2 separate regions of the Homo sapiens genome follow, and region 2 is linked to region 1. A link means that fine-mapping ties the variant in region 1 to the expression of a gene that starts in the linked region. Tissue or cell type: whole blood. Region 1 holds a variant in brackets; the other region holds the start of a gene. All regions are shown on one strand. Distances are between the middles of the regions.

What was found. PIP is the estimated chance that this variant, and not a neighbour inherited with it, causes the effect.
Region 2: SYTL2 starts here. The variant in region 1 is fine-mapped to the expression of SYTL2 in whole blood (INTERVAL, PIP 0.95).

The regions. Positions count from the first base shown.
Region 1 is chr11:85,592,408-85,595,167 of GRCh38, reverse strand. All of the region lies in intron 3 of DLG2 (discs large MAGUK scaffold protein 2), which reads left to right. Among named protein-coding and RNA genes, the nearest start is that of DLG2, 34 kb to the left of the region's middle. The variant G/A (reference allele first, on the strand shown) is at 1,337.
Region 2 is chr11:85,809,758-85,812,367 of GRCh38, reverse strand. SYTL2 (synaptotagmin like 2) reads left to right here and starts at 1,227. Exons shown (of 20, transcript NM_206927.4): 1 at 1,227-1,414. RefSeq lists a silencer at 1,089-1,268.

The DNA of each region.
Region 1 (2,760 bases):
ACATTAAGATTTTCAAGGCACTTTTATTAGGTTATTTATTCTTCAGTTCTTCAGTTAGGTGATAAAGAAGCAAGATTTATCTTTTTTTTTTTTTTTTTTTTTTGAGACAGAGTCTCACTCTGTTGCCCAGGCTGGAGTGCAGTGGTGCGATATCGGCTCACTGCAACTTCTGCCTCCTGGTTCAAGCGATTCTCCTGCCTCAGCCTCCCGAGTAGCTGGGATTACAGGCATGCACCACCACTCCTGGCTAATTTTTTTATTTTTGGTAGAGACGGGCTTTAACCATGTTGGTCAGACTGGTCTCGAACTCCTGACCTTGTGATCTGCTGGCCTTGGCTTCCGAAAGTGCTGGGATTACAGGCATGCACCACCGTGCCCGGCCTTGAATCATTTTTAAAAATTATTTTTGTACTTCTAAATTGACTTTTAATTTTTAAACAACTATATTACCACCATAATTGTTTTTGAAGACTTTAAATAAATAATATTATGGGTTAGTTAAATTTTAGATATGTAACACAAATGTTTTTTGTAACTTATTGAAAATTATGTGTTATTCTTTAGTCATTACTTATAAAGTATGGAAATAACTATAGATATATTTCACAGATTTCAACCCCTTCTAAAATCATATTAGTCTTGTTTATCTAACTTATTGCCTTATATTTCTTCCCAGTGTGTGAGGGGGAATTTTTTGGAGAGGAATTAGAGGGAAATTAGAGGAGAACAAGCGGTAAATGATACTTTAAAAAAACTCTACCAGTGGCAAAATCTTAGAAAAGGGCTTATCTTGTTTAATGGAGGCAGTTAAACCTTACATGTTAGACTTTGTGTTAGAATAGAGTACATTTCATTTCCATAAATCTTAACAGAGAACCTTGTGGATTTTGGAGATTACTAGCAATAGGGGTGATACAGCAGATGTATTACATATTGGGATTTATCATCTCTTTGTTGAAGCCTTCTAACACATTCCTACTTGCTGGCAGCTTTAACTAGCCCTTTCATTGTATCTCATAGCATTTTTTTCATATTACTAAAAAGCATTTATCACATTGCCTTATGGTAAATCGAATATACTTCTGCCCCTTTTTATATCCCCATAATGTGGACCTTTAATAATTATAATAGACTTTTAATAAATTTTTATTCATTTATCAACACTTCTTTTAAAAATACCAGTTATGTGTTGGACATTGTGCTATGCAATAGGGATACAACAGTAAGCTATAGAGGACAGTCAATACCCTTATGGACAAGTAGGGGAAAAGAGACATTAAACACACAATTAATTATTATTCAATTATAATGATGGTAAGGTCTATAAAATAAATAT[G/A]TATAAGAGTTTTAGTTTGAGTAAAAAAAACCCTACATATTTTCCTAATAGTAATTCGAATGTAGTAATTTTATTTCAAAATAACATCTCTTTGAATATATCACGGCTATTTTGGTCTTAATTATTAATCATAATGTGTATTTTTTGCCATCTGATCATAAGGAAGTGAAGGATTATTTAAATAGTGGGTGTGAAGGCCCCTACAGTTGTGTGAATTTGGAGCAACTTGGCTGTATTTATTATTCTTTTAGTTTATTTATATCTTTTTTTGTTAACCCATTTAAAGATTAATGGTGAAACAACCTGGCTGTAATCTTCAAAAAGAGAGATTCTCAAGATGTGGTTCTTGGACCTCAGCACTAGTCACCTGTGAACTTGGTTAGAATTGCAAATTCTTGGTTCTCACCCTAGACCTACTGACTGAATAAGAAACTCTGGAAGTAGGGCTCAGCAAATGGTACTTTACTAATCCTTTCAGGTGATTCTGAGGCATGTTAAAATTTGAAAACCTATGTTCTAAATGGTTAGGTATTTGGCCATTCAGGGAAAGTAATATATTAACAGTGTGTGAATATTATTACTAAACTTGGGAGAATATGACAGTGGCATTTTTTCCTTCTTGTGTTTTATAGGATCTGATTTAATCTGTAACGACTATAATGAGCCATTATCATTCTGGGACATATCTTGAGTACTTTGTAATCCATAAACTCACAATTATCATTATGGTGTCCAATTTTCTTTTTAAAATATAGTAGCATATCTTTTTATTTTTAATTTTCTTTTTATTTTCCTTCCTTCCCTCCCTCCCTCCTTTCTTTCCTTCCGTCCTTCCTTCCTTCTTTTTTCTTTTCTTTTCTTTTTTTTTCTTTTCTTTCTTTTTTCTCAGTCTTGTCTGTTGCCCAAGCTAGAGTGCAGTGGTGCAGTCTCAGCTCACTGCAACCTCTGCTTTCTGGGGTCAAGCAATCCTCCCACCTCAGCCTCCCTGGTACCTGGGACTACTGGTATGCGCAGTCATGCCTGGCTAATTTTTGAATTTTTTTTGCGGAAAGGAGACTTCACCATTTTGCCCAGGCTGGTGTTGAACTCCTGGGCTCAAGTGATTCTCCCACCTTGGCATTCCAAAGTGCTGGGGTTACAGGCATGAGGCACCACACCCAGCCTTACAATAGAATATCTAAAACATTTAAGGGATTTTTTTCTCTTTGGATAATTAATGATAGTTTCTATTTATGTTACAAGATAGTTTCTACTTATGTTACAATAATTATTCTATGGATAGAATTCTGTTACAATAAGTATCTCTATGGATAAAGCTACATTGATATGTTGTTGCTGGCCCATGTGAGAGAGGCATTTCCTAGGTAATGCTTGCTGCCACTCACAATCTCAAAGCATGTGCTTCAGTTGAAACAAACAAATTA
Region 2 (2,610 bases), 220 kb before region 1:
AGGCTAGCAGCCTGCACTGGGCACTAACTGAAGCCCTTGGGGATAAGTATTTGTAAGTTTGGGAGAAGGAAGACCTTTGGAAGAACCAAAGGCAGACCTGGGCCACCCTCAGTTAAATGGACAACACTAGTCCAGGAAATGATAAGGAAAAAGGCTTTAAGGTTCATCTCCTTCAGAGGTTTGCCTGGGCTGGCCCCATCATGGGTAACTTGTAAAAAATAGGTCGTGATACAATTTTTAAATTATTTTATTTATTTTTTTGAGACAGAGTCTTGCTCTGTCACCCAGGATGGGGTGCAGTGGTGCGATCTTGGCTCACGGCAGCCTCCACCTCTCGGGTTAAAGCGATTCTCCTGCCTCAGCTTCCTAAGTAGTTGGGACTACGGGCGCTCGCCACCACACCCAGCTAATTTTTCTTTTTTCTTTTCTAATTAGAACAGAGTTTTGCTATGTTGGCCGGGCTGGTCCCGAACTCCTGACCTCGGGTTATCCACCTGCCTCGGCCTCCCATAATGCTGGGATTACAGGTGTGAGCCACCGCGCCCGACCACAATATTGTATTTACTGTATTGCATTGTCTGCCTCCCTGCCACACAGCGTCTTCCAGGAGCTTACCAGTCCTCTGTGCATACCCCAGTAAGTAGCTCAGGCAGTGCATGACGCCCTCACCTTTCTCTAGGTATTATTGTATTTTAAAGCATCACTTCATTTAGTCCTCTCAACAACTTTTTTCCCCCCTTCTTCTATTTCACATGTGAGGAAATTGACGTCCCGAGGGTTAAAGCAAGTTACCCCATGACCGGGCTCCATACCCTCCGCGCCCCTTTCCCTGCGCGGTGGCTGTCCCTTCTCGGAGTGCAGAGGCTCCTAGTGCTCCACACTCTCGGGCTCCAAGGCCCCCTAACGCGCCGTGATAAAAATAATAATAACAATAACAACAGTGCTGCTTTATTTGCACAGAAAACAGGTTGTTTCGGGGCAAGGTACACTTGAGAAGGAGGCTAGGAACCGGAGAGAAGCAGCAGGCGGGGGCGGAGGGCGAAGGGAGGGAAGGGGAGAGGGCAGGGGCTGGCAGGCGCTGTGTGCCGGGCGAGGAGGCCGGGGCGGGCCGGGGCGGGGAGCGGGCGAAGCGCCATTGGCCCGAGCACCCGGGACCGGCCCCACCGCACCGCCCGCCGGGGGCGGGGGTAGCGGGGAGGGACTCGCGCACGCCGCTCTGCGTTGACAGTGCCGGGCGACACCCGGGCCGTGCCGCCAGCGTCCGTCGGGAGAGTGAAGGCTCGCAACGCCTTGCCCGGGGGAAGGTAACGCGCCGCGCCCGGGGCTGCGCGGTTTGCACCGCCAGGCCGAGGGCTGGGGGCCAGAAGACAAGAGAGACGGCGAGGCGCGCTCCCTGCCCGGCAGCGACTCGGAGGTGCGCACTCGGGTTCCAGTCTCTACTTGGCCCACTCGCTGTGTTACCTCGGGCAACTTTGTTTCCCTCTCTTGGTCTCTGCTTCCTCCTCTGTTAAGTGAGGGAGGTGGTGTAGAATGTTGTTCCTTAGTCTAACCAGTTCTAAAATGGGAACTGCGTTTTGGCACGGGGAAAGCTCCTTTCCTCAGTTTCCCACCTACTCCAGAGCCACCTCCGCTGCCCAGGCGGCCAGGAAGCTGGGATGCCCGGGTAGGCGAGGGTTCTGCTGAGCTATCGCGTTTTCTAGGGCTTTCAGGGACTGACCTGGGCTTGGGGCTGGGTGCTGGGGAGACCTGGCTGCAGAGTAACTGCCCCCAGATTGCTCAGGTGCAGAAAGGTAGGAGCGTCAGCACCTGTTTACAGGTGGGGTGTTGGGAAGGGCCGGCCAGGGGATGATGATTTCTCCTTTGAAAATAAGACGTGTTTTGGAATTCTCTTCCATACCCACACCTCGTCCCACGGCGAGCTATAAACTACACGAGTGGGCTTTATCATCCTTTGAAGTGGAAAAGCGACTGTTTTTAGCGTCTAAGACACAGGGCTCCACCAGCATATAGGAAGTGGGTCTCTCTTTCTCTGCACCCATCCTGCCGCGTCTTCCCTTTCTTTCCTCCTCTCTTTATAAATCCCCTTTGACCTTGAGGGGCTCCACTTCCTGCCTTAATGAAAAGTTCTTCTTTTCATTTAGTGCTGGTTTGTGACCAGCAGCCTCCAGGGCTTTGGGCGCAGGGTTGAGATAGAAGCCTAGATAAGAACAGGCTATGAATCACCCTGTCAGCCCCCTGAGCCACACAGCCCGGCAGGGATGTGCAGAGGAAGCCCGGTGGGGCTTCAGACAGATAGACCCTGGAAGGTGGGGTGGATGCAAACTGCCATCCAGCTTCCCGTCCCCTTGTTGGCAGCCATTCCCCACCAGGATGGTGACCCCTGCTGTCTGCTGGATGGAGCAGCCAGATAGAGTAGGATGATTGAAAGGAGCTGAGGACTTGGCTGGATTTCTATGGAAGGTCTCCAGCATTTCCCTTCCCTCACTTTCCTCCACCCCTGAAGTTCTGCCCCTTCTCACCCTTAGTGTGGTATCCAGGTGAAATCAGATTGCAGAACCCATCAAGAGCAGCTAGGAAGGAGAAGAGGTGTGGGGACGGCAGCAGGGCAAT